Linked DNA regions of Homo sapiens. The protein of the gene in region 1 purifies or fractionates together with the protein of each later gene. This does not show direct contact. Each region holds a gene or a part of one and is shown on either strand. Other genes may lie near its edges.

Region 1 (3,653 bases):
CCAGACACAAATAATTCATACCATATGACTCAATTTATGTAAAGTTTAAGAACAGACAAAACTAATCTCTGGTAATAGAAGTCAGAATAAGGATTACCAGGAGTGGGGAGGAGGCACAAGAGAACCCTCTGAGATGCTGAAAATGTCCTACAGCTTTATCTAGGTGGCAGTTGCATAGATGTATACACATGTAAAAATTAATTGCGCTATAAACATGATTTGAGCCCTTTATGTGTAATGCAACTAAAAGTTTTTTTTAATGACTCCTTTTTATCATGTTGAGATACTGTTGTGTGAACCGTCTTATATAAACTGGTTGGGGGACTTCTAAATCTTTTTTTTTTTTTTTTGAGACAGGGTCTCACTCCATTGCCCAGGCTAGAGTGCAGTGGTATGATCTCAGCTCACTGCAATCTCTGCCTCCTGGGCTCAAGCAGTCGTCCCACCTCAGCCTTCTGAGTAGCTGGGACTATAGGTGCAAGCCACCACGCCCTGCTAATATTTGTATTTTTAGTAGAGACCGGGTCTCACCGTGTTGCCCAGGCTGGTCTCGAACTCCTGAGCTCAAGCGATCCGCCTGCCTCAGCCTCCCAAAATGCTGGGATTACAAGGGGGAGCCACGGTGCCCAGCTGGACTTCTAAACTTTCAAGACAGTCAATTTCTTAACTTTCTGACACATTTGGCACCTTCTATAGCCTGAGTAGGTGTCTCTTTCATCTTTCTTCAACAGAGAATTCTATTGGGCCAGCACAGTGACCAGTCTTGATTGTCAACTTTAAAACAATCAAGAGCATGTATATGTCTGTCCTGGGCCAGTAATAAAGAATGCTTATTTTGTTTACTTTATGGCCTGCACAGGTTCAATGGACTAGAAAATCCTTTGAACATACCTCTCAATTGGAGTACAATAAATTTCAAACGACAGCAGAATGCCTAAAACAAATGTAATCCTCTCAAGAAACCATTTGGAAGAAAAGCGACCCCCTCTACCCCATGCGAAAGTTTTGGAAGAGGAGGCAAAATGGTGCATAGGAAAGAGGATCTACTTGGGCAGACGCTTTCATGAGTAACCACTGTAGCTTGAAGAAGTCACTTAACCTCTTTGAGTCTCAGTTCCCTGCTAGTAAAATGAACTCCCTTACCTTCCACTTTCCCCGGGTAGAAGAATCAAATGTCGTGAGACATAACACTTTGGCAAACACACAAACTGCTAATACCAATGGAACGTTTTTTACAAATAAAATTAAATAGACATTTGTGGAATGCCTAGGTTCCAAGAACTTTCATATATCCTGAAGTATTTAATCTTCACAATAAGTCAATGAGGTGGCACCTGGACTCCTACTTCACCAAGGAGGAAACTGAAACTAGGCAGTTAAGGCGATGCCCGGCCAGGCGCGGTGGCTCACACCTGTAATCCCGGCACTTTGAGAGGCCAAGGTGGGCGGATCACGAGGTCAAGAAATCGAGACCATCTTGGGCAACATGGTGAAACCCCGTCTCTACTAAAAATACAAAAATTAGCCGGGCGTGGTGGCGGGGGCCTGTAGTCTCAACTACTCGGAAGGCTGAGGCAGGAGAATCACTTCAACCTGGGAGGTGGAGGTTGCAGTGCACGCCACTGCACTCCAGCCTGGCGACAGAGCAAGACTCCGTCTCAAAAAAAAGAAAAGGGGGGCGCTGCCCAAAGGCACCCAGCATAGAGGGAAAGAAGCAAGGATTCCCCTCCTTCTCTCCCCATGTGTGAGTAGCCAATGTGCCTGTTCTAATTCCCCGTTTGAATCAGATGACCACAGCAGAAAAGCAGCATGCAAGAGTAGGAAACTGTTGACAATTTTTCCTAAATAGCCACTTTTCTCTTAACGACAGACTAACTAAATCAGAAGCCACTGAGCCTTGAAAATCCTAATTTTATTGGCACTACACGGAGTATTCATCTGAGAAGCAGATGTGCTGACTGCTCCCAGGCATCTTACAGGAAAGTTTATATTTCACCCTCCATAGTCACCATGATGGATCAGACCCTATGGATTTACTTAACAACCGCAGAATTAAATCTGGCTAACACCGAGGCAACTGGGTTTAAATCTGCCAGATGATTTTTAAAAACAAAACAAAACAAAAACCTTAAACAGCGCTATATCACAAATCGCTATTTCCAAGCACACACTTCCTAAAACAAAACAGTCCTCAGCAGATTTTGCTGTTTTGCCCTGTAAAACACTTTCTCAGTTATATAAAACTACAAATTGCAATCTGAAGGCTTTGCAGGCTTGAATTTCCATCTTCCCTGAAAATTTCTGAGGATACAGAATTAAATTTGGACATCTTTCTCTCAGGCTTTTTGTATTGTGCCTGCCAAATGAAACATTTTTTCCTTTGTATGCTTGGCTTTATGACACTTACCGCATTTTAGAGAAGTCACCACAGGATACAATTGTATGCAATAAACTTATGTGGCTAAAGACTGATCTTTTAAAACAACATCTTATCCACCTCCCTCCATGCTTTGTACTTTGCTGTGACAATATTGCCTATCTGAAGCCTTGCCAAAAAGATATTTCTAATTTAGTTTCTGTTTGCAAACCAACAACCAATTTGATACAAAATATCACTTTAAAAAGGTATTCATGGGCCTTGTGTGGTGGCTCATGCCTGTAATCCCAGCACTTCAGGAGGCGCAGGCAGACAGATCACTTGAGGTCAGGAGTTTGAGACCAGCCTGGCCAACATGGTGAAACCCCGTCTCTACTAAAAATACAAAAAAATTTAACAGGGCATGGTGGCACTTGCCTGTAATCCCAGCTACTCAGGAGGCTGAGGCAGGCAAATTGCTTGAACCCGGGAGGTGGAGGCTGCAGTAAACTGAGATCACACCACTGCACTCCACTCCAGCCTGGGTGACAGAGTGAGGCTCCGTCTCAAAAAAAAAAAAAAAAAAAGGTACTCACGGCAAGAGGAAACTTTCGGGGATGGAAGAAGTCATAACACTGGGTTGTGGTGATGGATGCACAACTGCATACATTAACTCAAAAGCAGCATAGTTACAGTGGGCAAGTTTTATGATCTATAAATTATACCGCAATAAAGCTGTTTAAAATATATGCCCATGATTCACGAAGTGAGATTTTTCAGATTTTAAGTGTTAGTCATATTCATATTAAAAGCATTGGTTTAGGCTAGGCGTGGTGGTTCATGCCTGTAATCCCAGCACTTTGGAAGGCCAAGGCAGGCCAATTGCTTGAGCCCAGGAGTTCAAGACCAGCCTGTTAAACATGGCGAAACCCAGGTTGGCGAAACATCTCTATAAAAAATACAAAAATTAGCCGGCCATGGTGACGTGCGCCTGGCCAAGTAGCCTCCCAGCTACTTGGGAGACTAGGGTGGGAGGACCACCTGAGCCCACTGCACTCCAGCCTGGGAAGCAGAGTAAGACCCTGCCTCAAAAAAGCCTCAGAAAAAAAAAAGGGGGGGGCAAAACAAAAACCATTGATGTTTTTTCTTTCTGTGCTGCAAAGGTATTTGTCTAAAACAGGCTTTCTCAACTTCTGTTAATTCTATTAATATTTTGGACCAGATAATCATTCGTTGGGGGGAGTTGTCCTGTGCATTGTGGGATGTATAGCAACATTACTGGCCTCCACTCACTAGT
Region 2 (3,653 bases), about 10 Mb from region 1:
GAGTGTACATAAAGCCCCTGACACACAGTAGGCCCTCAGCATACATTAGTCACTCTTATCCTTAAATACCCTGGCAGCTTGTCAGCAACTACCTCTCCTTTTAATGGCACTTATCTTTACTGATCATCTGCTAGTAATCTGCAAGTCCCTTGCTCTGCCTCTCTTGCTGGCCCCCAGCACAATATCTAAGAGACAGTAAGAATGGCCAAATGATTAGCCTGGCATGGTAGTGCATGCCTGTAATCCCAACTACTCAGGAGGCTGAGGCAGGAGAACTGCCTGAACCCGGGAGGCGGAGGTTGCAGTGAGCCGAGATCATGGCACTGCACTCCAGCCTGGGCAACAGAGTGAGACACCGTCTCAAAAAAAAAAAAAAAAGGCCAAATGAATGAATGTGCCCTGTCCTGTCAGGGCTCTATGAAGTTAAGACACAGCACTTGTCTGTGAGAAGCAAAGAGACTTGTTCGGGTTGCTTCCCTATCTCTTTACCTAAAGGGTAGCTATTCCACAGTCTTCCTCAAGATGTCACCTATACCCTCGTGATCAATGCAGAACAAGATGGATGGGAGTTGACATCAAATGAATGGCAGGCACTGTGATGGATTCCCAAAAGAACATGTCCTAAAACACTGGTCAATTTCTTGTGATGAGCAAATAAAAATCACAGATCTCCAACAAAATGTTAACAGTTAATTAGTCTAGGTGGAGAATATACTGATGTTTATTGTATGATTCTTTCAGATTTTCTGTGTGTATCAAATTTTTAATAACAAAACTTTGGGGATAAAAAGAAAAGAAGCATGAAAAGACAAAAAATAAATCACACAACAATGTGAATATGGGTAACACTACTAAACTGTACACTTAAAAATGGTTAAGAAGCGTAAATTTTTTTTCTTTTTTTTTTTGAGATGCAGTTTCACTCTTGTTGCCCAGGCTGGAATGCAATGGTGCAGTCTCAGCTCACTGCAACCTCCGCCTCCCAGGTTCAACTGATTCTCCTGCCTCAGCCTCCCATGGAGATACATTTTATATTATGCCTTTACCATAATTAAAAAACCAAACTAGGCCAGGCGCAGTGGCTCACGCCTGTAATCCCGGCACTTTGGGAGGCCGAGGCGGGTGGATCACGAGGTCAGGAGATCGAGACCATCCTGGCTAACACGGTGAAACCCCGTCTCTACTAAAAATACAAAAAAATTAGCTGGGCGTGGTGGTGGGTGCCTGTAGTATCAGCTACTCAGGAGGCTGAGGCAGGAGAATGGCATGAACCTGGGAGGCGGAGCTTGCAGTGAGCCGAGATCATGCCACTGCACTCCAGCCTGGGTGACAGTGCGAGACTCCCTCTCAAAAAAAAACAAAACAAAAACAAATCAAATCAATCGGTCAGTCACAGATGCCTGAGCCCCACTCTGTGGAATCAGAATTTGTTTGGGACATACCCGGTGGACTGGCCACTGCTGTTTTTTTCGAGGCTCTCCAGGTGATTTAGAGGCCAGCCAGGATTGGAAAGCCTGTTGTAAAACCCCTGAAAGGTGACTAGCCGTGGCCACAGCCTCCAAGGCCACCCCCGGGACTGTGCATCCTGCTAACGCTCACCTCAGCAGGTCGTGCTTCTTGGTGCGGTTGTGGGCACTAAGTGCCTTCAGCTCAGCCTGCCGTTTGCGAAGCTCAGCAAGGACCTCATCCTCGGAGTCCTCTGCGGGGCGGTCCTCAGACTCCAAAAGGCCCTGGGCAATTAGCTCCTCCTTGATGCGGCTCTCCAGGGACTTAGTATGCGGCACACTGCAGCGGGAGGCAGGCCCGTCAGACTCAAGAGCCAGCTTGGAGAAGGGCCCACCTTGGAGGTTCCCAGGGCTTCCCAAGGTCAGTGAAAACCTGCCTTTCCCTTTGGGCACCCCCTCTGTATCTATCCAGATACAAAGGGAGGGACAGACACATCTGGTCTGGTTTTTAAAACAAGCAACGTATGTATCTACTATTCAAAAAATATGGAAAAACCCATAATGCCAACAACCCAGAGAGAATTACTATTATTTTGTTATATATTATTATATATATTCCAGATTTTGTTATATATTATTCCTAATCTTTTGCTACATATTAGTCCAGGTTTTTTCCCTTATGTGCACATATTTAAATATATTGTAAGTAAGCCAGGCATGGTGGCTCACACCTGTAATCCCAGCACTTTGGAAGGCCGAGGTGGGAGGATCACCTGAGGTCAGGAGTTCAAGACCAGCCCGGCCAAGATGGTGAAACCCCGTCTCTACTAAAAATACAAAAATGAGCCATACATGGTGGCAGGCGCCTGTAATCACAGCTACTTGGTGGCTGAGGCAGGAGAATCGCTTGAACCTGGGAGGCGGAGGTTGCAGTGAGCCAAGATTGCGCCATTGCGCTCCAACCTAAACGACAAGAGCGAGACTCCATCTCAAAAAAAAAAAAAGAAAAAGAAAAAAAGAAATATATTTTAAGTAAAAATAGTATTATACCATCCATACTGGGCTACAACTAATATTTTCTCCACTTGTCACTCTATAATTTACATCTTTTCATGTCATTTAACTATATTTCTCTATACTTGCAGCTATATGATTAATAGCCCCAAGTTATTTCATCATATGGAGTTATGCCAATTTAGCCAACCATTCCCCTTCAGCAGGACATTTGGGTTATTTATGGTATGAACAGTTCTGTGCTGAACAACCCTGCACTCAGTCTGTGCATGCAGACACGCTGGGTCATCACTCACACTTGAGACTGCTATTAGGCTTCACCTAACTGCCCCCAGCCTCTTACTGATGAGGACTTCCCCAGGTTGAGATGGAGAGAAGCCAACAGAAGCGGGGGCCAGACTGTGGGTTGTGGATAGGACACCACTCACCTGAAGGGCTTGTTCTGATTGCGAGGGGAGGTGCTTGCCCCGTCAGCCCCTGATTCTTTCCCAGACATGTCAGGAATAGGAGAATCCTCCATAGGGGAAATAATATTTTCCTAGAAGACCACAAAAATGAGTGGAAGGAAAAATAGCTGTTCCACTTTCCTGCTCCTTTCTGACCTACACTGACAGTCTTCAAACACCAGAAATATCCTTTTATCTTTCCCATCCCACCTACCGTGGGAAGCCTTCCCATACCAATCCCAAATTGCTTTGATCATTCTAGAAATCCCTTTTATTTTCGTACTGATGTGAAGAAAAAGGAACACAGAAGAGAAATGATTAACACTCAATGATGGTAATGAACAGCTAAGGTTTGTGAAGCGTCTGCAACGCACCAGGCAGTGTGCTAGGCCTGCTGTGGCGGAGATGCTAGCTGTCCGAATGCCATACTCTTCTTTCCTCCACGGCAGCTAGGCAATGCCTGTCCAGTTGTACTTCCCAGGCTCTCTTGCAGGCGGGTATGGTCATGTGACAAGTTCTCTCCAGGGGAAAGTGATCAGAAGAGATAAGAGCCATAGCTAGGCATGGGCCAAAAAGTTTCCTTCACACACTCCTCCTTGTTTTGTTTTGTTTTTTTTTTTTGAGATGGAGTCTCACTTTGTCACCCAGGCTGTGGAGTGCAGTGGCACAATTTCGGCTTACTGCAAGCTCCGCCTCCTGGGTTCATGCCATTCTCCTGCCTCAGCCTCCCAAGTAGTTGGGACTACAG
Region 3 (3,653 bases), on another chromosome or scaffold:
GTTTGTTCAATTATTTGCTTATTTGTTTTACAAAATATCCTGTCTCCCTGAACAGAGATCACATCAGTCTCCAGAGTCCCACTTTGGACTCAATTTGGTATAGTATTTGATGTACAGGCCCTTGATGTTAGCTGCTGATTTTGTCAAGTGATAAAGGGCAGGAAGGAAGACTTCCAGTCTCTGAATATTCATCTTGACTACCAGTCACAGGAGGGGAGGGGTGTCTGCCAGCCAGAAAAAAGTTTGAGGCTTATACTAACATATTTTGTCAGGAGGCTCTCTGACACTCATGCTCCCACCTCCCAGAGAGCCCAGGAAATCCAGCACATATAGGATATTCCTCTCAACTGCTGGGTAGCTGGGAACAGCGGCTGCGGTTGCTGAGCAGTTGCCTAGGGCAGCTTGGCCACCCTGGAGAACCAAGAAAAGAGGGGAAATAAAGAGTTTTCCTAGGCATGCAAGCAATCACTTGAATGTTAAAAGAAAACTAGGCCCGTTGTGTTCACAGTAAATTTTCTCAATTAGAAATGTTATAACAAATTTGTCTGATGTTAATGGAAAGCATACTTATACACATATTCATAAAGTGAACAAACATCAAAGACATTTTAAAGGGGGTTTTTTGACATCATAATTTGGGTTTGTAACATAAAGAAAACAAATAGTGATTAATCAACTAAGTAAGCTTTAGGGACTTTTGTATGTTGACTGATAATGATGTATGACCTTTTCTAAGAAAAAAATGGATTTTTAATGGGCATAAACATTTTAATCCCTATTTGGTTTCCAAGCCAATTTGATTTTCCAAGGGGCATAAGAAAATGTTGAATTGTCCTTTTGTTTGTAATAAGATGCTATATGGGCATATATGTTAACATATTTTCTATGTATCCTAGAGCAGAGAAATTTAAACCTAGGGTCCATAGGGTTCACAGATCCCTTGGATCCATAGAATGGCTTCAGAATGTCTCTGAACAATCTGAAACTGTAGGCAAAATTTGTGAATGTGTTTATAGAAAAAGGGTTTATAGTTTTCATCAGATTCTCAAAGGGGTGTGTGACCTAAAGAAGATTACAACTACTTCTTAGAAATGATTTGAACCACTATCCTTGCCTATAGATATTTAACAAGGAGTAGAAATGTGTAATCAAGGTATGGCTATAAAACAGAGCTTAGCCATTTTCAGGTTATATATTTCAACCAACTTGATCCAAAACGTACTTCACAACTCTACATGTAGATGCGAACTTAACCTTCTTGCTGTCTTATCTATGGATATTCGATTGAATTACGTGAAACTGCTGTTTTTGTTAGTGAAAAGGGTCGAATATTGGCAAATACATTCAAGACACTGCAATACATTTCTGGTTTTGAGGTAGATGCTGTTTACAGAGGAGATTCTGTATACTAAAAGTGGTGCACAGTTATTATACAGAGCCTTAAAATTGGAAAGAAAACTTTACGGTTCCCATAGCAAAGCCAGATCAGAAAAGAATATAATTTTCACATAGTAGGGGCAATCTAAAAACTCAAGATGAATGAAGACAAGCTTCTTTAAATCATTTTTAGAGATGAATCAATAACTGAAATGGAAAGTTATCAATAAATGCCAGGGATTATTTTGTGAATAATAATGATAACCCTCTTATCTTTTGAAGCACAAAGAAATAAATGACTTTTCCAACATTACCTAAACCAGTTTTTCATCTCCCATAAAAATAAGAAATGCCTTGCAACTATCCCTTTCAATGAAGGGGTAGGAAAGCTAAGTGAAGCAAGAAAAACGTGAAAAAAGTCATTGTCTTAAGTGGACTGTCAGGGCCTGGCACACAGTAGGTGCTCAATTAAATACTTATTTGAATGTCTAATGTATTAAGATTCTTTGACTGAAGGTTATACACTCCTGCATAATCTTTATTAAAGAATCACTAATGTAAATACCAGATATGTGTCAAAATTCACAAATGTTTTAAGACAGATTTTTTTTGTACTTACCTCAGCAGAGTTGTGATACTGAATGAAGGTTGCAGAAATGGCATGGCTGAAGGGGTCCCCTGCCTTGGTTACCATGTCTTGCCTCACAAGAAGAGCCAGATCCACTAACTAGAAGACCAGAAGAATGAAAGTCACATAGCTAGAAATAATCATGAATGCCACTGAAGTGGCAAACCTAAAAGCAATACATTCTGAATGTTACTGATAATCCTGCTTGCCTAAAAATCTATATTGTAGACATGAGCACACACTTTCATTGACTGGTGAATGGACCTAGTCATGATATATTCTGACTTTTTAGGAGAGTAGTTCTCAAAATTTATTTCACAGTCACTAGTGCAAATTTCTGGGCTTTAAGTCCAGAGATTCTAATTCAGTAGGTCTGTTTTAAGCATATAGTCTAGGAATTTGCTTATTTTATTTTATTTTATTAATTTTTGAAATGGAGTTTCGCTCTTGTTGCCCAGGCTGGAGTGCAATGGTGCGACCTCAGCTCACTGCAACCTCGGCCTCCTAGGTTCAAATGATTCTCCTGCCTCAGCCTTCCTGAGTAGCTGGGACTACAGGTGCCCGCCACCATGCCCGGCTAACTTTTTTTTGGTATTATTAGTAGAGATGTGGTTTCACCATATTGGCCAAGCTGGTCTTGAACTCCTGACTGCAGGTGATCCACCCACCTCGGCCTCCCAAAGTGTTGGGATTACAGGCAAGAGCCACCGCGCCTGGCCAGAATTTGCATTTTAAACAAGAACCAAGGAGATGCTGATGCCTGTGGTCTAAAGACCACATCTTGAGAAAGTCTTTTAGAGGGCGAGATTCCAGACCCAGAATTTGGTAAGTACTCCTAAATTCTCACATACGTAGAAAGGTGTTTTTCAAAGCTCAAAAATAATCTCTAAACAAGGCAGATGTGGATTTGAGTTCAATGTCAAGAAAAAGCATGCAGGGATTCCATTTCTCATTAAGATAAAGGTACAAGAACTCTTTTTTATCCTAGCATCCACTTGAATTGAGGATGCAGAGACACATAACTGAACTAAATTTTAGAAAATGATGTAAATGCCACAGGAGAGAATTCATGGCTGTTATTACTGGTAGAGCAGCAGGGAGAAGAAGAATTGATCATGGGCAGAGATAAAGAAAAACCAGCCAGTGTGGCCCGATATGACAGATTAGAATTCTTACCTGTGCCACAGTTTCATACGCTAAATATGCTAAGATTTCCATTGCGACAACATTGGGTTTTATCTCCATACTGCTGCAGTCCAACCAGTCTCGAAATTTGGAAGCTTTTTTGGCTGGCCATTTAAAAAAAACAAGTGCAGAAATTTTAATTTTTAAAGTGTTTTAATACTGCACATTACTATCACAAAATTAAAAAAGTATACTCAGAATTGTACACAAAAAATAATGCACATAAAATGCATAATTAATGTCTAGATATTCTGGCCCCAAGAAATCCAAGTTTTAACTCTCAGTTATAAGGCAACACAATGGTTGTTTTCAACAACTCTCTTACGTATTTGGGTCTTTTATTTTACACCTATGCTATATGACATAGTATATTAAAGCATTTAATGTTTAATACTTCTCACACTGTCAGATTTACCATTGGCTACCGCTCATGTTACAACAAGAAGTCAGAAGATGTTCTTGT

Evidence for each region.
Region 2: the proteins of KAT2B (region 1) and TADA3 purify together in Homo sapiens (affinity purification with mass spectrometry; 10 studies listed by BioGRID and IntAct, with this or other methods). This does not show direct contact.
Region 3: the proteins of KAT2B (region 1) and SUPT3H purify together in Homo sapiens (affinity purification with mass spectrometry; 7 studies listed by BioGRID and IntAct, with this or other methods). This does not show direct contact.

Annotation. Positions count from the first base shown.
Region 1 is NC_000003.12:20,046,897-20,050,549, reverse strand, and holds part of KAT2B (histone acetyltransferase KAT2B), read right to left. Parts: intron 1-3,653. UniProt on the Homo sapiens protein: Functions as a histone acetyltransferase (HAT) to promote transcriptional activation. Has significant histone acetyltransferase activity with core histones (H3 and H4), and also with nucleosome core particles.
Region 2 is NC_000003.12:9,782,429-9,786,081, forward strand, and holds part of TADA3 (transcriptional adapter 3), read right to left. Parts: intron 2,998-3,653; coding exon 2,888-2,997; intron 1,786-2,887; coding exon 1,600-1,785; coding exon of another isoform or gene 1,596-1,599; exon of another isoform or gene 698-1,595; intron 681-697; exon of another isoform or gene 584-680; coding exon of another isoform or gene 553-583; exon of another isoform or gene 1-552. UniProt on the Homo sapiens protein: Functions as a component of the PCAF complex. The PCAF complex is capable of efficiently acetylating histones in a nucleosomal context. The PCAF complex could be considered as the human version of the yeast SAGA complex.
Region 3 is NC_000006.12:44,951,314-44,954,966, forward strand, and holds part of SUPT3H (transcription initiation protein SPT3 homolog), read right to left. Parts: intron 3,295-3,653; coding exon 3,182-3,294; intron 2,105-3,181; coding exon 1,997-2,104; intron 1-1,996.